Homo sapiens: one gene and its partners. The protein of the gene in region 3 purifies or fractionates together with the protein of the main gene of each other region. This does not show direct contact. Each region holds a gene or a part of one and is shown on either strand. Other genes may lie near its edges.

What was found.
Region 1: the proteins of YJU2B (region 3) and RIOX2 purify together in Homo sapiens (affinity purification with mass spectrometry; 2 studies listed by BioGRID and IntAct, with this or other methods). This does not show direct contact.
Region 2: the proteins of YJU2B (region 3) and UBR2 purify together in Homo sapiens (affinity purification with mass spectrometry; 2 studies listed by BioGRID and IntAct, with this or other methods). This does not show direct contact.
Region 4: the proteins of YJU2B (region 3) and ESS2 purify together in Homo sapiens (co-immunoprecipitation; 2 studies listed by BioGRID and IntAct, with this or other methods). This does not show direct contact.
Region 5: the proteins of YJU2B (region 3) and PPP2R2D purify together in Homo sapiens (affinity purification with mass spectrometry; 3 studies listed by BioGRID and IntAct, with this or other methods). This does not show direct contact.
Region 6: the proteins of YJU2B (region 3) and KDM8 purify together in Homo sapiens (affinity purification with mass spectrometry; 3 studies listed by BioGRID and IntAct, with this or other methods). This does not show direct contact.
Region 7: the proteins of YJU2B (region 3) and AQR purify together in Homo sapiens (co-immunoprecipitation; 2 studies listed by BioGRID and IntAct, with this or other methods). This does not show direct contact.

What each region holds. Positions count from the first base shown.
Region 1 is NC_000003.12:97,955,432-97,958,931, forward strand, and holds part of RIOX2 (ribosomal oxygenase 2), read right to left. Parts: intron 1-3,500. UniProt on the Homo sapiens protein: Oxygenase that can act as both a histone lysine demethylase and a ribosomal histidine hydroxylase. Is involved in the demethylation of trimethylated 'Lys-9' on histone H3 (H3K9me3), leading to an increase in ribosomal RNA expression.
Region 2 is NC_000006.12:42,675,529-42,679,028, forward strand, and holds part of UBR2 (E3 ubiquitin-protein ligase UBR2), read left to right. Parts: intron 1-527; coding exon 528-663; intron 664-1,254; coding exon 1,255-1,345; intron 1,346-3,010; coding exon 3,011-3,141; intron 3,142-3,500. UniProt on the Homo sapiens protein: E3 ubiquitin-protein ligase which is a component of the N-end rule pathway.
Region 3 is NC_000019.10:13,750,895-13,754,394, reverse strand, and holds part of YJU2B (probable splicing factor YJU2B), read right to left. Parts: intron 2,788-3,500; 5' UTR 2,587-2,787; coding exon 2,584-2,586; intron 107-2,583; coding exon 53-106; intron 1-52. UniProt on the Homo sapiens protein: May be involved in mRNA splicing.
Region 4 is NC_000022.11:19,138,152-19,141,651, forward strand, and holds part of ESS2 (splicing factor ESS-2 homolog), read right to left. Parts: intron 1,877-3,500; coding exon of another isoform or gene 1,874-1,876; coding exon 1,704-1,873; intron 1,579-1,703; coding exon 1,461-1,578; intron 1,142-1,460; coding exon 1,008-1,141; intron 329-1,007; coding exon of another isoform or gene 269-328; exon of another isoform or gene 167-268; coding exon 64-166; intron 1-63. UniProt on the Homo sapiens protein: May be involved in pre-mRNA splicing.
Region 5 is NC_000010.11:131,949,508-131,953,007, reverse strand, and holds part of PPP2R2D (serine/threonine-protein phosphatase 2A 55 kDa regulatory subunit B delta isoform), read right to left. Parts: exon of another isoform or gene 2,604-3,500; intron 1-2,603. UniProt on the Homo sapiens protein: Substrate-recognition subunit of protein phosphatase 2A (PP2A) that plays a key role in cell cycle by controlling mitosis entry and exit. Involved in chromosome clustering during late mitosis by mediating dephosphorylation of MKI67.
Region 6 is NC_000016.10:27,206,526-27,210,025, forward strand, and holds part of KDM8 (bifunctional peptidase and arginyl-hydroxylase JMJD5), read left to right. Parts: intron 1-3,500. UniProt on the Homo sapiens protein: Bifunctional enzyme that acts both as an endopeptidase and 2-oxoglutarate-dependent monooxygenase.
Region 7 is NC_000015.10:34,851,282-34,854,742, reverse strand, and holds the end of AQR (RNA helicase aquarius), read left to right. Parts: 3' UTR 1-2,961; downstream 2,962-3,461.

The DNA of each region.
Region 1 (3,500 bases), on a different chromosome or scaffold from region 3:
ATCTTCTCTCTGCAACTACAAGAGGTAGTCTAGTGCAATGGTTAAGACCATGAGCCCTGGAGAAAGAGCTCAAGAAATGCCAGCTTAAAAAAAAAAATTAAGATTCTCCTCAAAGCAAGAGGAATATATCATGATATATATTCATAAGAGCTATCTTAGTTGCAAATTTTCCCTGAATGACAACAAACTGACAGTACTTCAAGTAAATGCTTTACTGATAATTATAACTATCATTTACTGAGTGTCTCTGTGCCAGCCTGAGTGAGACTCTCAGGTATACAGTCACATGCCACTTAACAATGGGGTTATGTTCTGAGAAAAGTGGTATGTCACTGCGCAAACATCAGTGTACTTACAAATCTAGGTAGTATAGTGTACTACCTACATTACATGGTACAGCCTACTGCTCCTAGGCTCCAAACCTATACAGCATGTGACTGTACTGAATACTGTAGAAAACTGTAACACAATGGTGTTTGTGTACTTAAATATATCTAAACGTGGACAAGAAAAAACACAGTATAAACAATAATAAATGGTACATCTACATAGGACTGGAAGTTACTCTGGGTGAGCCCGTCAGTGATGGTAAGTGAATGGGAGAGCCTAGGGCCCTACTGTACACTTTTATATGACTAGCAAAGAAGTAGGGTTGTTTAGACCAGCATCACCACAAACACGTGAGTAATGCGTAGCACTACAACATTTTACAATGGCTACAATAACACTAGGTGATAGGAATTTTTCAGCTTCATTATAACCTTATGGGACAACTGTCACATATACAGTCTGTTGTTGACTAAAATGTCAACTGGCACATGACTATATTTCATTCATTTCATACACATTTGCCCCACCCTCCTGGCTGGAAAACGTAAGTAAACATTCTCCCCTACAGCCTCCTGAAGGAATGCAGTACAGCAACCCTAGAGAGATCCCTTTTAGTCTCCTGACCTTCAGAAGCATAAAATAATGAATTTATGTTGTTTTAAACCATTGAGTTTGTGGTAATTTGACAAGAAGCAACAGAAAAACTCAGACAGACATACAGATATTGCCTCTAAAGATTTTTTTTTTTTTTTGAGACGGAGTTTCGTTCTTGTTGCCCAGGCTGGAATGCAATGGCGTGATCTCGGTCACTGCAACCTCCATCTCCTGGGTTCAAGTGATTCTCCTGCCTCAGCCTCCTGAGTAGCTGGGATTACAGGCATGAGCCACCACGCCCAGCTAATTTTGTATTTTCAGTAGAGATGGGGTTTCTACATGTTGGTCAGGCTGGTCTCGAACTCCTGACCTCAGGTGATCCACCTGCCTCGGCCTCCCAAAGTGCTGGGATTACAGGCGTGAGCCACCGCACCCCGCCTAAAGATTTATTGTAAAGGAGGCAGCAAAATAATATTTTTCAATCCTCATAGCCTGCAAGGTAAATATCATGATCTCTGTTTTAATAAAGAGGAAACTGAGACTTGGATTAATAACTTGACCAAGGACATACAGCTAATAAGTGACAGCAGCTGAATTCAAACTCAGATCTGTCAGATCCCTGAGCCACAGAGTGGTGTTTCCATCACAGGCGTGATCTCATCCTGGGAGTCTGGGTCTGCAGATGAACTGCACGGGCTGCCACTAGCATAGGGGAAAGAAGCGGATAAGGGCTCCAAGACCCCCACTGTCACCCTCCCATGCCCATCCCTCAACCACAGCCACTAAGCCTTTCTATTTCATCATTGGGCATTGACACAAGGTTTCGCCTGAAGAGGCCCACTGGTTAAAAGCTCAAATGTGGGCCAGGCGCAGTGGCTCACGCCTGTAATCCCAGCACTTTGGGAGGCCGAGGCAGGTGGATCACGAGGTCAGGAGTTTGAGACCAGCCTGGCCAACATGGTGAAACCGTCTCTACTAAAGATACAAAAAATTAGCCGGGCATGGTGGTAGGCAGCTGTAATCCCAGCTACTCGGGAGGCTGAGGCAGGAGAATTGCTTGAACCCGGGAGGCGGAGGTTTCAGCTAGCTGAAATCACGCCATTGCACTCCAGCCTGGGTGACAGGGTGAGACTCTGTCTTAAAAAAAAAAAAAAAAAAATGACATGCACATACACATACACACTTGAACAATACTGTACAACATGGTCTTTCTCTGTCCAGGAGACTCAGTGCATCTCCTAATGGACTCTGTGTTGACTGTTTAATGGGCATGGGCATGGCAACAATACAAAGAATCCACACCCTTTACACTTAAAGGCCACTATGAAGCCTGACCTTCTCGGGCAGAGCAAGTAGCCAGGTCACCGGCCTGAGTAACTCAGCCCTGACTTCCGAGAGTACAGATGGCTTAGTCTTTAAAGATAACCAACCGTGAATCTATGTAAACATGATGCAACAAAGCTGGCAACCTCTGTGAAGAGCCAAATGGAAAGACAGTACGTATTTTTGGTTTGCGGGCCATGTGATCTCTGTGGCAACTAGTCCGCTCTGCTGGTGTAGTATGAACACAGGACATTAAGGAATGGGTGTGGCTGTGTTCCAATAAACTACTTACAAAAACAGGCAGCAGGCCAGATTTTCTGGTCCATGGGCCACAGTTTGATGACCACTGACTAAAAGCATAAAAAAAACCAGTAAGGTTACCTTTACTGTTGTTTATTGATTTAAGTCTCCTGTAATATAGGCACCCATCCTAAACAGCAAGATTGTTTCCCTTAGTTACTGGGAGGTAGGTAAGGATTTTGAAATCAAGAAACACACAAGGCATTGAGTAAGAAACAGGCTAATTATAACTTCGAGACACAAGAAAAACAATAAGTATATGCAAATGTGTCAGGTTGGTAGAATCTTTGGAATGGTTTAAAATAACTATTGTTTTATTGCTAAAGGAAATTAAGTTACATGTTTTAAGAAAGAGTATAAAGTTGAATTATGGAACTACTCCTATCCATGTAACGTTCTTTTCCTCAACAACCTCTTCTGCTGGGGATTGGCTATGTTCCCATCGATGTTAACTGCTCAAAGACAGATTTTCTCAGCAGCAAGATGCCAAGGAACCTGCACATGATTAAGCCACCTGAATCCCCAGAGAAGGAATCCTCAAGAACTTTCCTGATTACTACTGTTCTGGTAACTATGCAGGGGGCACAGAGATAGCCTGACATATAACCAGGATGAAAATGAGTCACACTGGAATTTTAGCAACAACAACAAAAAAAACTAAGGGATCCCTGGCTATGTTCTGCCTAAGCAACTTCCAGCCCTGTGCTGACCATCGTCTTGGATGTGGAGAAGCTGCCCAAGGCCAGAGCTTCCATTTTTCCTCTAGAGGAGTCAGTGGTTCACTGAATTCTCTTTCTTCCTGTTGGACTTGAACTGTACATGAAAACAGGTTATTTGGGAAATGAACTTAATACTTCCTTAACCCACTTCTCCAAGTGCAAACCACCAAGACTCCTTCAGAAATTACATGTGCTGGCTGACAGCAATGAGAAGCACCCTGCCCTGAAACCCAG
Region 2 (3,500 bases), on a different chromosome or scaffold from region 3:
AGTGCCCATCAAGAGTCCTGTAACTCAAGTCATTTCATGTAGCCAGTCCTATTGGATTTTCCAACATGGATGCCCTTTCTTTAAGAACAAAGATTTCTTAAAGGGAGGAGCTGAACTCAGGAGGGATCACAGTAAGAAAATGGAAATGTGACCAGGCGCGGTGGCTCACGCCTGTAATCCCAGCACTTTGGGAGGCCGAGGTGGGCGGATTACCTGAGGTCAGGAGTTCGAGACCAGCCTGGCCAACGTGGCAAAACCTCATCTCTACTAAAAATACAAAAAGTCGGGCATGATGTTGCACGCCTGTAATCCCAGCTACTCAGGAGGCTGAGGCAGGAGAATCGCTTGAACCCAGGAGGTGGATGTTGCAGTGAACCGAGGTTGCGCCATTGCACTCCAGCCTGGGCAACAGAGTAAGACTCTGTCTCAAAAAAAAAATCAAAATAAAAGTAAAAGTAAGAAGATGGAAATTTGCTTAGCTGTGAAAGGAAAGGCGATCTGTCTGATGTCCTGTGTTTGGTGCCTAGGTGGGCTTGGTGCTTGCATTTCCTGCGTTGCAGTGTCAGGATTTTTCAGGGATCAGCCTTGGCACTGGAGACCTTCACATTTTCCATCTGGTTACTATGGCACACATCATACAGATCTTACTTACCTCATGTACAGGTAACTCTTGCCTTTTTGTCAGTTTCTTGAAGGAAATACTTGAGTTTTCTGAGTTTTAAAAAAAGTATTAGAGGAAAAGGTATTTGGATGAGAATAACACATGAATAAGGCTGTTTTTTTCTGTGTATCTTCATATGAAAAGTTTTGAAACATTTCTTTCTCCTCTTAAAATTTCCTAGTAATGTGAATGTTTCTAGTTTTAATTTCATACATTCAGTAATATTTGTGTAGAATAGTAATTAAATCTTTTAGAATCTTATGTTTTAGAATGCCAATTTTGTTTTAACTTACATGTTTGTTAATGCCCACATGAATTCATCATTAAATTACGTTTTGCATTCAAAATTCTTGTTTTTCATACACTTTAAGACTATATTTATTTGATTTTACTTAAAACATGCCAGCTGGCTGTTTGGTTTGATTGAGATCAATACTGTGCTCCCACTTGAGGGATTACAATTTTGCATGTTTTCTAGGAATACTTCATGTTATATGTGAGTTTATGAATATATTTGCATGCTTAATGTCTTCAGTCCTTTTGATAACACTTAATTGGAAAATACAGAGTACTAGTATTTCCTTATCTTTCAGAAGAGAATGGCATGGATCAAGAAAATCCCCCTTGTGAAGAAGAATCAGCAGTTCTTGCTTTGTATAAAACACTTCACCAGTATACGGGAAGGTGAGTTAGTTATCTTTACATAACGCATTTCCCTAAATATTGCTAGATGATGATAGCATGAGAAAGGAATTCGTTTGTTAATTAGGGGAATTTGTTGTCTGTTGACATGTTTTTAAAATAAGACGTGGAGTGATCTGCAGAGCCTTTCTGAACTATTCATATACTAACATAATTGGAAATCTGGGAGAAAGGTGATAATATGCAGAGCTTCCCACATTTATTTGGCTGTGGAACCCTTCATTTGCTCAGGGATCTGGCAGAGACTAGAGGATAGATCAAATGTACTTTGGAAAGTTGATACTCTAAAACTTATGTTGTCTCATTCAGAATGGGAATTTAAAACTGCAAGTTAAATTGGCATAATTTATTTTTAAGGTAATATTCAGTAGTAGCAGGAATAAAATGAAATTATTAGAATTCCATGTATGGTTAGAGTCATGATTTGCTACAAATAGCAATTCAGTAGTTTGCTTAGCTTTCAACAGTATATATGTCAAGAATCTGTAGTCAGGAACCTATAAAAATGTCTGTTTTTTGACTATCCCATTTCTGAGAACCTACATTAACAAAATAATTCAACATATAGAAAAAAAACATATAGGCATATAAAGATGGACACTCCAGCCAGGCACGGTGTCTCACCCCTATAATCCCAGCACTTTGGGAGAATGAGGCTGGCAGATTGCTTGAGCCCAGGCATTTGAGACCAGCCTGGCCAACATGGTGAAACCCTGTCTCTACCAAAAAATACAAAAATTAGCCAGGCATGGTAGCATGTGCCTGTGGTTCTATCTTCTCAGGAGGTTGAGGTAGTCAGATCACCCAGGCAGGTGAAGGCTGCAGTGAGCCATCACACCACTGCACTCCAGACTGGACAAAAGAGTGAGACCCTGTCTCAAAAAGAAAAAGATGTACACTCTGATATTATTTATATTAGCAAATAATTGAAAGCAATCTAAGTGTTTGCAGGGGAATAGTTTGATATAGTGATGAATGTGTTCCAAAATATTATAAATCTATTTAAAATATGGCTCCTAGGAGCTGGGTGCAGTGGCATGTGCCTGTAGTCCCAGCTGCTCAGGAGGCTGAGGTGGGAGGATTGCTGGAGCCCAGTAGTTTGAGTCCAGCCTGGACAACTTTTCATTTTCCACATTTTCTCTTTATGTCACTATGTTACTTTTATAAATTTTAATAACATCACACCTGTAATCCCAGCACTTTGGGAGGCCAAGGCGGGCAGATCACAAGATCAGGAGATCGAGACCATCCTGGCTAACACAGCGAAACCCCGTCTCTACTAAAAATACAAAAAATTAGCCGGGCGTGGTGGCAGGCACCTGTAGTCCCAGCTACTCAGGAGGCTGAGGCAGGAGAATGGCGTGAACCCAGGAGGCAGAGCTTGCAGTGAGCCGAGATTGTGCCACTGCACTCCAGCCTGGGCGACAGAGCGAGACTCCGTCTCAAAAAATTTAATAACAGCATTGGAGGCTGTGTCACCACTTACACCTGGCATCCTATAATAACACACACCCACTTGCCTGTTAACTCACAACTTTTAAGCATACATGCCATCAGTTCCAAATGACAGTCAAGTCTGTTTTCACACTATAAGTACAGTGACCTTTTCTTAGTAGATTTCCCAATAATCTTTTTTTTCTTTTTTAGTGCCTTGAAAGAAATACCATCCGGCTGGCATCTGTGGAGGAGTGTCAGAGCTGGAATCATGCCTTTCCTGAAGTGTTCTGCTTTATTTTTTCATTACTTAAATGGAGTTCCTTCCCCACCCGACATTCAAGGTAATTTATACTTTCTTTCAAAACGTAGGGAGAGTTAGTAATCCTTTACTCCAGCAAATATAAAGATCACTTGCAAAAATGAAAATTGACTAAAAGTTCAAAGAATAGCTTATTGACTATGGTGATGTACACATTTATAGCATAAAATGTATGTTTATGCATATGTCTCCATTTATTTGGATCTCAGTAAATGACTGTTAAACTTCTGTGTAAATGTTTTTACACCTGCAAAGCCCTTCTCCCGTAAAGATCATAGTTTTGCTTTCAGATGTTAAAATGTTCAGTTATGTATTATTCATAAACAAGGTTCCTCAGATTTGAAAAGGTGAAAACTGACAATTTCAAGTGATTTTTAACTT
Region 3 (3,500 bases):
GATGACGTGGGTCTTTTTGCTACTGTGGACCTGGAGCGGAGAGCCTGCTTACCTTCTCAGGGTTGAAGTCTGGAGGATAGTACTTGTTGACCCCTTTCCTTTCACCCTGCAAAGCAGAACAGAGACATGACTCAGAGAGAGGCTGATATGGTTTGGCTGTGTCCCTACCCAAATCTCATTCAAAAAAATTTTTTCTGATTTTTTATTTTACTATTAATTTTTAGAGATGGAGTCTTGCTCTGTCACCCATGCTGGAGTGCAGTGGTGCGATCTTGACTCACTGTAACCTCCGTTTCCCGAGTTCAGGCGATTCTCCTGCCTCAGCCTCCTGAGTAGCTAGGATTACAGGCATGCACCACCACGCCCAGCTAATTTTTTGTATTTTTAGTAGAGATGGGGTTTCACCATGTTGGCCAGGCTGGTCTTGAACTCCTGACATCAAGTGATGCACCCACCTCAGCCTCCCAAAGTGCTGGGATTACAGGCGAAATCTCATCTTGAATTGTAGTTCCCATAATCCCCACGTGTCATGGGAGGGACCTGGTGGGAGGTAACTGAATCGAATCATGGGGGCGAATCATGCTGTTCTCATGACAGCGAATGAGTTCTCGAGAGACCTCATGGTTTTACAAGGAGCTTTTCCTCTTGCTCATTCTTGCTGCTGCCACGTGAAGAAGGATGTGTTTGCTTCCCCTTCTGCCATGATTGTTAAGTTTCCTGAGGCCTCCCCAGCCATGCTGAACTGTGAGTCAATTAAACCTCTTTCCTTTATAAATTACCCAGGCTTGAGTATGTCTTTTTTTTTTTTTTTTTTTTTTTTGAGACAGAGTTTCACTCTTGTTGCCCAGGCTGGAGTGCAATGGTGCGATCTCATCTCACTGCAACCTCCGCCTCCCGGATTCAAGCAATTCTCCTGCCTCAGCCTCCCGAGTAGCTGGGATTACAGGCATGTGCCACTACGCCCAGCTAATTTTTTTGTATTTTTAGTACAGACAAAGTTTCACCATATTGGCCAGGCTGGTCTTGAACTCCTGACCTTGTGACCCACCTACCTCGACCTCCCAAAGTGCTGGGATTACAGGCGTGAGCCACCGCGCCCAGCCCTTGGGTATGTCTTTATGAGCAGCGTGAGACTGGACTAATACACAGGCTCCCTCCAGGAAACCTACTTGTGCAGCCTCAGGGGGCAGGACCTGGATAAGGGGGACTTGGGGACATTTTAGAGGACAGTGCTGGGCTCAGTGTCTGATTGGGGAAGGGCTACTTGGGCAAAAAACCCATTGTCATTGCTTTGGAAAATTCCATGAGGTTCAGATGCTCCTATGGTGGCTTTCACACTCTTTTGGAGACTGTGATTGACGGTAAGAAGTATTTAACATTGCCACTGGGCAGATACACATGTAGTACCGTTGAACACAGGTCTCAAGAAAGAACACTGAGCCTGGCTGAAGAGTCGCTCTTGTTTTCTTCTTTTTTTTTTTTGAGACAGAGTCTTGCTCTGTCACGCAGGCTTGGGTGCAGTGGTGCAATCTTGGCTCACTGCAACCTCTGCCTCCTGAGTTCAAGCAATCCTCGTGCCTTAGCCTCCTGAGTAGCAGGGACTACAGGAATGTGCTACCACATCCAACTAATTTTTGTATTTTTTTTTTTGAGATGGAGTTTCGCTTTCGTTGCCCAGGCTGGAGTGTGGTGGCATGTTCTCAGCCCACTGCAACCTCCACCTCCCGGGTTCAAGCGATTCTCCTGCCTCACCCTCCAGAGTGGCTGGGACTACAGGCTCCCGCCAACACGCCTGGCTAATTTTTGTATTTTTAGTAGAGACGGGGTTTCACCACGTTGGCCAGGGTAGTCTCAAACTCCTGACCTCAGGTGATCCACCCAGCTCAACCTCGCAAAGTGCTGGGATTACAGGCGTGAGCCACCGCGCCCAGCCTAATTTTTGTATTTTTAGTAGAGACAGGGTTTCGCCATGTTGGCCAGGCTGGTCTCAAACTCCTAATCTTAAATGATTTGCCTGCCTTGGCCTCCCAAACTGCTGGTATTACAGGCGTGAGCCACTGTGCCTGGCCTTGCAATGGTTAATTTTATGTTATATGAATTTCACCTTGTTAAAAAAAAATGAAAGAAAGAAAGAGAAAGGAAGGGGTAGGGGAGGGGGAGGGGAAAGGGGGAAGGGGAAATTTAGGTTGAGTGTAGTGGATCACTTGAGGTCAGGAGTTTCAGACCAGCCTGACCAACATGGCAAAACCCCGTCTCTACTAAAAATACAAAAATTAGTGGGACGTGCTTGCTTGAACCCAGAAGGCGGAGGTTGCAGTGAGCCGAGAGCGTGCCACTGCACTCCAGCCTAGGCAACAAAGTGAGACTGTCTCAAAAACAAAAGAAAATGAAACAAAAAAACATTTAAAAAGTGCCCATGGGTGATGTTAGCGCAAAGCCACATTTCAGACCCACTGCACCAAAAGATGATGACCCGGAGATTGAAATCATCATCTTAGAGCTCTGGGAGGGGAGGAGGGGCTGCTTCCAGGGTCCTACAAAGACTGGGAGAGAAACCCAGGGCACACGAGGCTGTCTACTCACCATCTTGGGAGCTGCCTACTGGTCCTCAGCCTCGGGGCGGACGATCAGAAACTGGCCTTGTGAACACACTGCACTGTCCTGACCTCTTGTGGAGCCTGGCAGAGGGTCCACAGGCTTCCCTGCGAAGATGTCGTGGGCCGTGTGGTGGTGCCAGCTCAGACAAGACTCCCGCCAGGCATAGGAGGCATCCAAAAAGCGGCGTGTCTGTTTAGAAAGAGAGAGTCCCGTCCACTCTACAGCCAATATACGCATCACATCTGACACTTTCATCCCTCTGTGGCCCCCACCGGGTCCAGCACCCATCATCACTCACGTGGGCCAGCACGGTCTTCTCTCTCCCGACTCTGCCCTTGACACTTGCTCACCCCACAGCTGCCCAGGGGATCTTTTTGTTTTTTGAGATGGAGTCTCGCTCTGTCACCAGGCTGGAGTGCAGTGGCGCGATCTCTGCTCACTGCAACCTCCACCTCCTGGGTTCAAGTGATTCTCCTGCCTCAGTCTCCCGAGTAGCTGGGACTACAAGCGTGCGCCACCACACCCAGCTAATTTTGTATTTTTAATAGAGACAGGGTTTCACCATGTTGCCCAGGATGGTCTTGATCTCTTTACCTCATGATCCACCCGCCCCAACCTCCCAAAGTGCTGGCATTACAGGTGTGAGCCACCATGCCCAGCTGGGATCTTTTAATATGAACAAACGTGTCACTCTCCTGCTTAAACCCCTCCCATGATTCATATGGTTTTTAGAATCAAGTCAAACCCCTTCCCACGGCCTGTGGGGCCCCTGCCTGCCTCTCCAAGCCTAACTCTTACCCCTCTATCTCTCGTTCACTCTGTTCCAGCCACACTGGCTTCCTGGCTGTCTTCAAAGGCCAAGTGCAGCTGGCCTGCACCTGCTGTTCCTCAGGTTTGCAAGC
Region 4 (3,500 bases), on a different chromosome or scaffold from region 3:
GAAGCCCACCTCCCCCAGGGAGTCCCAGCAGTAGACCCACTTGCCAGTGGGCACTTTTCTCACCAGGGGCAGGGGAAGGAGTGGCAACAAATCCAAATCCACCCACTCGAGGGGACTCCTGGGGGATCAGCTCCTTGCCATCGGGGCCCACCTTGCCCTGTTTGTGCTGGAACAAGCAGAGAGGCTGGCATCAGGGGGACCGCAGCCCACGCTCGACAGCTGGCCGGTGGGCAAACACGTGGGAACATGCTGGAAACACTTCCTCTCCTCAGGGCAAGGCTGGGGCTCTGGGGTTGGCAGCCTTCTTGGAGAAAGAGAGGGAGGGCCCCTGCCCCAACCCCCCAAAAGACCTTGAGGGCCTGTCAAAGTGGGTACCCAAGCAAGGAAAGCCCCCTCCTCCCATCCAGGGAGGTGCCAGGGCCTCCACTCGAGCTGCGCCTATCCCAGCAACTCCAGAGGATGCTGACGCCAGGCCCCTGCAGGGGGCAATGCTGATGACAGGCAATGCTGATGACAGGCAATGCTTATGCTCTAGTCTCTTCCTGCCTTCCCCACTTCAACCCTGTGACTGCCACAGTCACCATCAGAGAGTATCTACTCGTCTTGCTCCCAGACTCAGAAAGCCTCTGCTCTCTGCCAACCCAGGGCCTGTCCCACCCCAGCCACCCCCTGGGGCTGGGCTCCCTCTGCGGCTCTCTGGCTTCCCTGCCCGGTGTGTGGGCGTGCAGCTGCCAGCCTGGGCTCACTCCCAGCAGTCCCTTTTCTCTCCTGCCCCTGCCATCAAGGGAGCTGGCACAGATCTGGACCTACAGAACGTGTGTGACCAAGGCAGTGTTCAATGGAAGCCCACTGGGGCCAAGGAAAGACTCAGGATCCTGCCGCACAGGGCCCCAGATGGTTCCACTCACTGAGCTCTGCCAAGCTCAAAGAGATGGGAGAGATCATGCCTGCCCCCAGGCAGCCCTGTCCAACCTGGCCCATGCGGCCCTGCTGACCCGCCTGCTCACCTGGGCATTGAGGGCGGCTGCCTGCTGGAGCTGGCACCTGCTCAGGGCTTGGCTGAAGGGGTCCCTAAGGAAGCGCGTGTTCTTATGTACCACCTGCCGGGGCTTCTTAAACAGCTGCTCCTCGTCAGGGACACCTGGCAGACGAAGCAAAGGTAGCAGCAGGTGTCAGAAGGGCAGCAGCCTAAGGAGCATGAGGAGCTCGCTTCTCGGCCAAGTCACTCCCAGATGAACAAAAGCATTGAGCAGAACGCAGGCCCCAGTGCCGCTGGAGAGGGTCTCACTCACTGCTGACCTCACACAGACCTGTCCACCCTTAGACAGACCAGTACCCATCAGAAGCCCAAACTGCAAGGGGGCACGGCCATACACACCTGGAAGGCTGCTCCAAACACAGCCAGACACACACAGCTCTACCCAACACCTCCCCATTTGGCTGCGAGGCCCGCCACTTACCCTCTGGATAGTACATGAGGGAATTCTTGGCCTTGTACTTCCAGGTCTCCACACTGGCCTGGCTGCTCTCGATGGCCTGGTGCTCTGCTGACGGGAGTTCGAGATTATCTTTCTGCCTCTGCAATCACATGGGGAAAAGTGATGGTCAGAGATGCCCCTGGGCATTGTACCCATGGCCCTGGGGCTCCCCAACCACCACAGAGGGTGCCTACGCCTATGTGACACCCCAGACCCCAGAGACACCTTCTCAAACTCTTCCTCAGCCTGGTAGAGCCAAGCGTGGCGTGCCCGGCTTCTCTCCTTGGCCACCTCCATGATCTCCTGGAAGGAGGCATTGTCCTCACTCGTGTAGCGGCTCAGGAAGACATCTAGGCTGGGCAGCGGCTCCTTCTCCTCCTCCTCTCCAGCCTCTCCTGCTTAGGGGTTGCGGGAGGAGGAACACAGCACCCTTTGCAGTCAGGAAAGAGGAGGACACCCAGGCCCAGGAATCATAGCCCCCAACATGCAGGGCTGGAATCCTCTCCCCTGGTCCTGGCTTCTGCCCATGAAAGCCCACACTGCCAAGGACTCCCCACGGGGGCAGAATCCACCCACCCTGACTGCCCAGAGAGCCCTCAGGTGGTACCCTACAGATTCAGGGCCAGCTCTGCTCATGTGCTGGATGCCAAGGGAATTACGTGGTCTGATTCAGACTGGAGAAAGCAATACAGGTGTTAGAGCAAGAGCTCGTGATCACAGGCAGGCTCCTCCCCCACCAAAGTGGTGCCAGGCCTGTGGGTGCCAGGCCTCCAAATCCCTGGGGCTCTCCCTCACTCCCTAGGATTTCCTTACCTTACCCACTCTTCTCTTCCTGGTACCTGTACTACAGGTGGGTGGTCATCGCCTAATCATCCTGACCTGAGAGCGAGCCCCAATTCCAGGGATCTCATATGACTTAGTCCTCTGGATGGGGCCTCACAGGTGCTAAGCCACAACCCCAAACACCCCCCCCTCCGACCAACCCTGCCACCATGGAAAGTGGTACTCCCACTGAGGTGGTGCCCTGGTGCTGCGTGTGGTGGTGCAAACTTCGGTGGGGCCACCTGGAGAGCTCTGCCTTCAAGTCTAGTGACAGTCCTGACCACCTGCTACACGTGAGGCTATGCACAAGGCACAGTGGCTACAAGCTCAAGACCCACGGGATGAGGACAGGGGTCAGAAACTCTATTCATCTCAGAGAGATAAGAAGTGAAACCCTGACCATCTCTGAGACCTGCAGAAGTGACTGCCTTTCTGAGCCTCAGTTTCCTCACCTGTAAACATGATGATGGTTCCTACCACTTAGGTTCTGAAAAGGATTCCTATATTTACTGGCATGTAGGTGTACAGGTATTGAAAATCTGCAAACTGGCTAGGCATGATGGCTCACACTTGTAATCCTAGCACTTCGGGAGGCCAAGGTGGGAGGATCACTTGAGCTCAGAAGTTTAAAACCAGCCTGGGCAACATAATGAAACCTCATCTCTATAGGAAAAAAAAAAAAAAGGAGAAGAAAAAAATCTACAAATTGCCCTGTGATGCACAAGCTACATTTCAACAGATAATCAAGCTTCAAGGACAACAAGGACTGTGTTAATGGCCGAAAAAGCTGGATTGTAAAGCAAAAAGTATCATGTTTGCATGTTTGTGCAAACACACAACACATCTGTGCTACTCCAGCACAGTGGAGTCTACAAACTGATAAGAAAGAGTGTCTCGTTTGTCTATACATGCACTGACATTCTACTACTGATGAAAAGAGGGCCTGACAACGCAGAAGTCCCATGGCGTGCAGAACACTTGCATTCAACAGGACTCGGAGTGCCCTTTCCTAAACCGACTCCCCCATCAAGTCACGATGTTACCATATAGAGCTGTGTGTCCCAGCAAACATGCTGAAGATGACAACTCTTTCATCTGTTCCATGTGTATCTGTGCAAGGCCCACAACACCACATGTGCTGTTCCCAACACGGAGCATACAGATGAAAGCAAAACAAAGCTTCTGCTCTTGTGCAAGGGA
Region 5 (3,500 bases), on a different chromosome or scaffold from region 3:
CCCCCTGCACACCCGCAAGTCACTAAGACAGTGAACCCCCGCACACTCGCAAGTCACTGATAAGACAGGGACCCCCCCCGCAAGTCACTGCTAAGACAGTGAACCCCCCACACACACCCGCAAGTCACTGATAAGACAGGGACCCCCCCCGCAAGTCACTGCTAAGACAGTGAACCCCACACACACACCCGCAAGTCACTGCTAAGTGAACCCCCTGCACACCCGCAAGTCACTAAGACAGTGAACCCCCCGCACACCCGCAAGTCACTAAGACAGTGAACCCCGCACACCCGCAAGTCACTAAGACAGTGAACCCCCACACACCCGAAAGTCACTAAGTGAACCCCCCCGCACACCCGCAAGTCACTAAGACAGTGAACCCCCCGCACACCCGCAAGTCACTAAGACAGTGAACCCCCCGCACACCCGCAAGTCACTAGTGAACCCCCCGCACACCCGCAAGTCACTAAGACAGTGAACCACCCGCACACCCACAAGTCACTAAGACAGTGAACCCCCCCGCACACCAAGTCACTAAGACAGTGAACCCCCGCACACCCACAAGTCACTGCTAAGACAGTGAACCCCCGCACACCCGCAAGTCACTAAGACAGTGAACCCCCGCACACCCGCAAGTCACTAAGACAGTGAACCCCCCCCACACATGCAAATCACTAAGACAGTGAACCCCCCGCACACCCGCAAGTCACTAAGACAGTGAACCCCCGCACACCCGCAAGTCACTGCTAAGACAGGGACCCCCCAAGTCACTGCTAAGACAGTGAACCCCCCCGCACACCCGCAAGTCACTGCTAAGACAGTGAAACCCCCTGCACACCCGCAAGTCACTGCTAAGACAGTGAACCCCCCCGCACACCCGCAAGTCACTGCTAAGACAGCGAACCCCCCTGCACACCCGCAAGTCACTGTTAAGACAGGGACCCCCTGCAAGTCACTGGTAAGGTGGTGAACCCCCTGCACACCCGCAAGTCACTGCTAAGAGAGTGACCCCTCTGCACACCAGCAAGTCACTGCTAAGACAGGGACCCCCCTGCACTGTGTTGCCACTCTGGAAAGAAAGATGGTCTCCTATCCCATCCCCAGTTGGGGTCCTCACTTGCTAGAGTACATATGTGTCATCCCCACACACATTTATATTTTGTATACAGATTTTTTTTGTTTTTTTTTGAGACAGAGTCTCACTCTATCGCCCAGGCTGGAGTGCAGTGGCACAATCTCAGCTTACTGCAACCTCCACCTCCAAGGTTCAAGCGATTCTCCTGCCTCAGCCTCCTGAGTGGTGGGATTAAAGGCATGCACCACCATGTCCGGCTAATTTTTGTATTTCTAGTAGAGATGGGGTTTCACTATGTTGGTCAGGCTGCTCTCGAACTCCTGACCTCGTGATCCGCCCTCCTCAGCCTCCCAAAGTGCTGGGATTACAGGTGTGAGCCACTGCGCCTGGCCAATAGTTACAGATTCTTAAAACAAAACCGTCTTGTATGTCTTAAACATGTTGTATGTCATTGCACCGTACGCATTCCTCCTGAATTTTCTTTGTGGATTATCTTTGTGAGATCCACCTAGGTGATCCATGTAGTTCTAATAATTGATTCTCACTGCTTTTCAGTATATGTTATGATAGAGAACAACTTACCTGTCCATTCCTCTAATGATGCACCTGTGGGCTGTCTCCAGTTGTTTGCTATTTCAGGTATCTGAGCACGTTTTCTTGTCTGAACATGCAAGAAGCTCCCAACCCGACTGAATGTCACCAAGGAGGTCACAAGAAGGGTACTGGGTAAGACCACTGGTCTCCACCCTCTCCCCCAAACCATCATCATTCTGATGGGCATGAAAGGACGTCCCTCTGGCTTTACTTGCTGATCACTAAGAAGGATGAGCATTTCTATTTATTTTTCCATTTCTGCGAAACCCCATTCATGGTTTTTGCTCTTTTCTGAGTTGTTTGCCACCTTCTTGTTGACAACTAATTCTGCACCTATTCTGGATACTTAATCTCTGTTCGTTATCCTTTTGTGGATTTTGTTTTCACTTTTAATTTCAATATAAAGAAGTTTAAAATTTAATGTAGTTGAATTTCTTAATGTTTTCCTTGGGCTTTTGGGGCCTTCTTAAAGAAGCCCTTGTTTCCAGAGCTCACAAAGATGTCTTAGGCTTAGAAACACTCAGAGCTTATTTATTTATTGTGTGGGGCTGGTGAGGGCTCTAATTTTTCTCCCCCAAACACAGATAACTAAGGCCGTCCAGGTGGCAGAGCTTCAGAGTTTGCACTGCTCTTCCCTGCAGGCTGCGTTCCTCTGCCTATCTGTCTCAGCCCCTTTCTGCAGGGCCAGGCTCCCTTTACAGCTCGCTCTACTGAGTTTCCTGTTGTGATACATTGTTTCCCATTTGAAAATGCCTTTATCACAAGCAGATTCTTGAACGAGCATCTACTTCAAGGCTTGATTCTAAGCTGGCGGTGGAGAGTAAGGAGTCACACTTGCTGGATCTGTCACACGGCTTCTGGCTCCCACTGTGGCCGTGGCAAAGCCGAGTCTCAGTCTCGGTGTCCGCTCTCAGAGGTAATTTGCGTTTTTTCCTTGGGTGCATTTAAGATATTCTCTTTGCGTTTGGTGTCCTGCAATTTCATTATGAGATGGATGGATGCTGTGCTCCCGATCCTGTGTATTCAGGCTTTCATAATTTAGAGAAAATTGCTGGCCACTGTCACTTTAAGCCTCACACCCCCAAACTTTGTTTAAACGTGTGCTGTGCCTCACCCTGGCCTCCACGGTTCCTAGTGTCTCTTGTTTTCTGTTTGGCTCTTTAGCCCGCATTTCTTCTGGTTTTCCTTTCCATCCACTAATACAAGATCTGTTTAGCCAAAATGGACCTGCTGCTAAACCCACACAGTTTCATCTGTCATACTTGTCATTTCTAGATGTTCTCTGACTCCTTTCCAGTCTCCACGTCATGTTTGGCGGTCATGTATCATACTTGTCATTTCTAGATGTTCTCTGACTCCTTTCCAGTCTCCACGTCATGTTTGGCGGTCATGTATCATACTTGTCATTTCTAGATGTTCTCTGACTCCTTTCCAGTCTCCACGTCATGTTTGGCGGTCATGTATCATACTTGTCATTTCTAGATGTTCTCTGACTCCTTTCCAGTCTCCACGTCATGTTTGGCGGTCATGTATCATACTTGTCATTTCTAGATGTTCTCTGACTCCTTTCCAGTCTCCACGTCATGTTTGGCGGTCATGTATCATACTTGTCATTTCTAGATGTTCCCTCTGATTCCTTTCCAGTCTCCAGGTCACGTTTAGCGGTCATGTGGCTCCTGGTTCAGGCTGTTTCCTTCCTCTAGTCTGTGAATATCTCAAGCATTCTTAGTTTATCTTCTTTAACTTAGGATCTCAACAGCTGCCTTCTCGGAGGTTCAGTTCTGCTGTGGTTCTGCTGACTTGCTCACGGTGGCTTTTCCTGTATGTGCTT
Region 6 (3,500 bases), on a different chromosome or scaffold from region 3:
CCTCCCAAAGTGCTAGGATGACAGGCGTGAGCGATGCACGTGGCCTTAATATAAGACTTTATAAACAGCAATTCAGTGAGGAGTTCTGGGAAGCCAATCAATAAAGCCAGGCCATAAGGCTACTCTGGCTAGTCCTTTCCTCTAGAAAACCTCTTGATACAACAAGAAGCCTTTTTATCAGACCAGTATATGGGAAATGCCAGAAGGCTGATGAGCCTGGACCTGAGGCCATTCAGAAAGGCAGTGACCTGTGGCTCGCACCTGACCTTCCCAGGAGGGCCATCTCAAGTGGTTGGTGGTGTGAAGGCTGCTTCTCATAGCCCATGAGGCCAGTGACCCTGGAAGATTGTTTCATACAGCCAGCAAGAGAGTGTTTCCCCAGCCAGACCAAGACTCCTTCTGTAAGGCCATTTTGCATGGCTAACAGGAGCCAATGTGAGGCTGCTCCCAGCGGGGTAGATGGACACAACAAACAATTCTTTCCTGGCACAATGAAGAAACCACAGATCGATTTGTAAAACTAAGACAAAATCTGACTTCACCTGGTCCTCAGACAAGCCCCCATCTATAGGAAGGCCAGTTTTTAAAACAAGTTACAAGGGCCGGGCGTGGTGGCTCACACCTGTAATCCCGGCACTTTAGGAGGCTGAGGTGGGTGGATCACTTGTGGTCAGGAGTTGGAGACCAGCCTGGCCAACATGGCGAAACCCCGTCTCTACTAAAAATACAAAAATTAGTCGGGCGTGATGGCATGCGTGCCTGTGGTCCCAGCTACTCAGAGGCTGAGGCAGGAGAATCACTTGAACCTGGGAGGTGGAGTTTGCAGTGAGCCGAGATCGCATCACTGCACTCCAGACTGGGTGACAGAGCAAGACTCCATCTCACAAAACTGCTTTGGAAGACTGCTTCCTATACCAGGATGTGGCTGTTTGATATGGTAACTACATAAAAGGCCAAATCATGAGAGGTTTGGGGAAGCCTATGCAACAAGGCAGAAGACTGATGCGGCCAGAATGCCACTTCACCATGCTGCCAACATAAGGCCTTGTAGGAGGCTATAGTTTTATTTTTTGAAACAGGGTCTCACTCTGTCACCCAGATGGGAGTGCAGAGGCACAAACACAGTTCACTTGCAGCCTTAAACTCCTGAGCTCAAGCAATCTTCCTGCTTCAGCTCCCGGAGTAGCTGGGGCTACAGGTGTGTGCCACCATGACCAGCTAACTAATTTTTTAATTGTTTTTAGAGACAGGGTCTTTACATGTTGCCCAGGCTGGTCTCGAATTCTTGGGCTCAAGCAGTCCTCCTGTTTCAGACTCCCGAGTAGCTGGGATTATAGGTGCCCTGCTGGGGGATAGTGTATAATAATCTTGAGGCCTTTGGGGAGGCCATTTCAAGTGGCTTATACAGAGGCAATCTGAAAAGCCATTTTGAAAACAAACTTATACAGCCATCCTGAAGCCTCTGTCTCTGGAAAACCATCATATATTGTCAACGTAAGTATCTCTGAAGGCCTTTTGATAAGGCCGTTCATTGAAGAACTCTGCATTAAAGAATAATCATAAGGCTATTTCATGTGGCCAAGAGCAGATAGTTTTGTACAGCCAACTCACAGTATTAGGAGGCCATCTTTCCCAGAAGGCTGTGTCCATTGGCCTTCAACATGAGGTCTCCAAGGCCGATTTGCAAAGTAGCAGATAGGCCGCCTATGAAGACCAAACATGAGGCCACCCTGGGAGGCCAGGTGACAAAGCAGACACGGGGCCACTGGGGGAACCTGGCTACAAAGCCGCACACGTGAGGCCACCTTGAGAAGCTGGCTTGGTAAGGCTGATAGGCGCCCTGTGAGGGGCCGTTTTATAAGGTCACCCTGAAACACCAATTTACAAAGCCCGTAATCTGCATTGCAGAGAACAGGTTTATAGCCCATTTGAAACCCTCTGGGAGGCTGTTTTCTAAGGCCATCAAGAGACAGGTTTACAAAGCTGGTACATAGAGCCCCAGTGGAAGCCAGTTTTATAGTAGGGCAATAAATGGTCTCCTGGGAGGCCTTTCCACTGGCCTTTATGAGAAGCCAGGATATGAGGCCCCTGAGGTCTTTTGGATGCTCAAGATGAGACTTCTCCATGTTGCTCTATAAGATTCATGTAAGCCACACACGGGATGAGCCAGGAGGCCACCCAGGGAGGCCAGGGATGGGCCCATGTGGTGTCTTGTGCTGGCCTAGTGGATAAGTCCATGCTGGAAATTGGACTGTGAAACGCTCCAAGAAGGCTGTGAATGAGGCCAACACAAGCCTTCTAGGAGGCTAGAGATAGAACCCACCCTGGCAGGCTGGGGCTCTCTGAGCCCTACCATACCCTGAGCTTGCTAGAAAGAAAGTTCATTGTGAACCAAGAATGGAAATGAACTCATTATAAGCTCAGCCCTGTGGATACAAAGTCCAAAGAGCTCACCCTTGAAGGCAATGAGTGTTCTGGGCAGACACTGCCACTTACTGTGTAGTTTGGCACAAATTGCTTAACCTCGAAATCTCAGTTTATTCATCTGTAAAACTCCCATCATAGGATTGCAAGGGACGTGTTAATCTATGTCAAGCATGCAGCATTGACATGGCGCACAGGAGAGGGTGCTGAGATCAGCCAGAATTTAAGCCCTGCTTCTGCACAAATGATTGACCGTAGGCCTTGGGGCAAGTCACTTCATTTTTGTTTTTTTGTTTTAATTTGAGTCAGGATCTTGCTCTGTCACCCAGGCTGGTGGCATGATCTCGGCTTACTGCAACCTTTGCCCCCAGGCTTAAGTGATCCCACCACCTTTAATCTCCTGAGTAGCTGGGACCACAGGCATGTACCGCCGTGCCCAACTAATTTTTGTATTTTTTGTAGAGACGGCGTCTTGCCATGTTGGCCAGGCTGGTCTTGAATTCCTGAGCTCAAGTGATCCAATTGCCTCGGCCTCCCAAAGTGCTGGGATTACAGGCGTGAGCCACCATGCCGGCCTTCTCGAATACTTTTCAAAGCCTGGCACTCCTGAGTGACTGCCATGAGGCAGACTCTGCTTTTAGGCTCTGGGAAACGTAGGGGAATGAGCTACGTTCTTGCCCTGGTGGAGCTGGCAGTGCAGTGTTGGATAGACACACGTGTAAGCAGGTGTTTTCATACATCCTGACGAGTACTGTAAGAGAAGCTCAAGGGCTGCAGGAACACAGAACACTGTTGGAGAGTCTTGGCAGGCCTCACATAGGGATATTTAAGATGGGCTTTAAAGGTTGGGTAGGAGTTTGCCAGGCAGCGGAGGGGTATGGGAGGCACTGCAGATGAGGACAATACACGTTCCTTTCTGAACAGACGTTTATCCAGTGCTTGCTGAGTACCAGGTGTTGCGCCAGGCCCTGAAGATACAGTGGTGACCCCAGACAGATGAGGGCCCTCCCCTCCAGAGCTTCTGCCCAACAGAGAAGACTGCTGTTGAAAAATCCTCGCAGATGAGATGCAGGAAG
Region 7 (3,461 bases), on a different chromosome or scaffold from region 3:
TTTCTTTGCTGCTTGGTTTTTCTATCACTAAAAAGCAAATTTAGGTGGAAGATGGATGGGTAAGTCCTTTGTCCTTGTCAAAAGAATTTAGAAAGGGTAAAGGTGGTGGGATTTGAATTCTTTTAAACGGTTTATTCATTGGAAAGGCAAGTGAGTGGCAGTTGACTGTAGAATCTTGGGAATTTTTGAAGGAATTTAAGAGCTGTACTTATTTTAAATAATGAGGAAACAATCAGAGAGACTTAACCAGGGTGGCAACTATGGAAGAGTGGGGGTAGAATCCAAGTCTACAGTTCTACGGCACTGCTTTGTTTATTTTTTCAATCAAGCACACATGAGGGATTGCTTAATAAATTCAAGAGTTTTCTATATAGTTTGGGATTACTACAGACACAGGTACTCTAGCCATGTGACTATTTCAGATTAGTGTTCCCATTGCTCTCCATCCTATTTTTCATATCTAAATGTGTCATGATTTTAGAATCTCTTTGTAAAGAAAACCAAAAAGAGCCATGCCCAAAAGAATGAGCATGAAATGAAGCAATTCAAGTATTTAGAATTTCTTCTTCTTTTTTTTTTTTTTTTTTCAAAATTCTGAGTTAAGAAAGTTCATTGCCAACAGTTGAGGATAAATAGCTCTATTGATTTAGGCAAATGAATGAGAAGATTTAAACATCATCAAGACTCCCAAAGTTGGTGTAATAAAAGTTGAGATGTTTTGCTAGATGCTGAGAGAAAAGGCATAAATAGGCCATTTGTGCTCCTGTAAACAAATGAAATTTTGTAATGATCAAGAGACAGCAAGATATTATAAAACACACTTTGGACTCATCGAGACCTGGCTCAGAGTTGTACCTAATTTGCTTATCAGCATTTGGTTAGACCTTAGACAAATTTTATAACCTCTCTAAGCCCATTTTCTTTATCTGTAAATAAAGGAAAAAGATCTGTTTGGATTTGGGACAGGAGAGTTGTCTGTTTTATAGGGTAATGTTTATGAAAATAATTTATCACCTAGGTACTTAGTAAATACCAGTTTCTGTCTCTGTTTTTCTTCAAAGCTTTGTTGACAATGTAGGATATTGCCAACTAATCCTTTGACTTGAGTGCTTAGCCATGCCCCAATCCAGGCAGCATGAAGAATGATCAAGAAGGGGACACCTAGTGGCAGTTGACCTTTGAGGATCTATCTAGGATCAGGTTACTGATTTGGGACCTCTGAATCAGTACATCATAACATCGAGAGTGATCTCTGCCAAAATTAAAATTCTGTCAGAACAGTATAAGCAGAAGGAAGACATTAGGTCTTTCTGAAATATGGAGCTGATAACTTCTATCAGTTCTGAATTCTGTACTGTCCCACCCCCAAATCATCTATATTGTTGCATGTGCTTAGCTTTGTGCCTTGAATTGCTATTTCCTTTTTATCTTGCACTCAGATGGTATTTTTAGAGATGTTTCTTCAATCAAAACAAGATAAAGTTAAAAAAAAAAAAAAAACAGTGACCCTTTTGCATAAGCCAGAAGAGCAGTGCCTTGCTTCCTGTGAAAAATGCTTGGCAGTTAGCCTGTGTAATTATTTAGCAATCATGTTAATAGATGTTTAAGAATAATGGAACTGGAGCTGTACTGAGCCAAGGATGGAAATGAAGACATGTGAGACTATTTTTTCTTCATCCACCGATACTCTTCAGTTACAAGGATTTAATTTAAAAGGGTTTTAATTAAATGGAATCCAGAAGCTTTGGACGCTCCAGTTTTTCTTCTTAGAGACAAACCCTAGCTCAGTTTCCTGGAGCTTGACTCAGAATGCAGCATGGTACTCCGGACTGACAGTGTGCCAGCTTTATTCACTTATCTCTCTACCTTTTGGCTTGCGTTTATTTCAGGGCTGCCTGACATTTTGACCTTATGTACAAAGATGGCCGATACGATTATTTTTCATCATATATTACAGAAAATACTACTCTTGAAAAATACTCTGAGAAATATGTTCTATGGTCAGATAAGTTTGGGAAACAGTGAATTATTGTTCCTCCTTTGCAGAATCACAATGCACTGTTAGCTAATTAAAGACTCTCAGATGTCCCACTGGAAAGAATCATGTTTAGCTTTGTTTAACCTAGCATTTCCCAAACTTATTAGAGCATAAAACTTTGTTTTTGTTTTTTTTTAATAAGATAGGTAGCTATTTCCTTAGAACACAGTTTGGGAAACTTTTTGTTCATTTGTTTTAATAAGATACCTTAGGTAGCTATTTCCTTAGAACACGAGCCGGGTGCAGTGGCTCACGCCTGTAATCCCAGCACTTTGGGAGGCCCAGGCGGGCGGATCACCTGAGGTCAGGAGATCGAGATCATCCGGCCCAACATGGTGAAACCCCGTCTCTACTAAAAAGACAAAAATTAGCCAGCCATGGTGGCAGGCACCTGTAGTCCTAGCTACTGTGGAGGCTGAGGCAGGAGAATCACTTGAACCCGGGATGGGGAGGTTGCAGTGAGCTGAGATGGCGCCACTGTACTCCAGCCTGGGCGACGAGCAAAAACTCCTTCAAAAAAAAAAAAAAAACATAACTTAGGTAGCTATTTCCTTGGGAACCAATATCTTTACATTGGCTAGAACTGTGAATCGCCCTTTAAAGATAAAGCCCCAAAATACATTTTTTTTCCCTACAGGTAACCAGAGGGTGAAGTAACAGCCGAAGAGGAAACCAGAAGTGAAGTGATTTGTACAAAATGTCGTAGTGTAATTTATTGAGTGTCATGTGGTATTAATCGCAACATCCTGAAAATGCAAATGAATAAAAGTTTGGTCAATGTACCATGACATTCCTTCATGTGAGCCTCCTAAGAAAAGGTCACTGAGCATTCTCTGTTTACATTTTAATTTTAGACTCCAGAATTTCACACTAAGTTTTTCTTCTCATTTCTTATGCAGTAAAAGAAGAGTTTGTATTTCCAATGTGTCTGGCTTTCTGTTCTTTAGTTTTTGTTTCCTTAAAAAGTTTAAACTCCAAAAAGAGAAAAGGATTACTTAGCATAACCAATAGAGGTGGTCTGGAAATAATAAAAGAAAATGAAGGCAAATATAAAACATGAAGACAGTTTCCTCGCATAAGAATATTTAACACACAAGGACCCCAGCAGTTACTTTGCATTAAGCATACTGAATTCTTTCTTGATCTCCAGAATAACTGTCCCCACAATCCTCTTCCCCTCTACCTTTGATTTAACATTGTGCACTCTCTCTATTATACTTATCTTTGTGTTGCAACCTAAGTTCAAGAACCTCAAAGGTAGCTGCTTCTCTTTGAAAGATGCCTGGTTTAATATAAAAAGCTCTTTTAAGAGCTGAATTTATTGACATTTTTCGAAAAACAGTTCTGGATGGGAAGTGATCCTTTTCTACTTTAGTTCACTGGTTCATTTGGGCCATTTTTGATTGGTTGGTTGGTTGGTTGC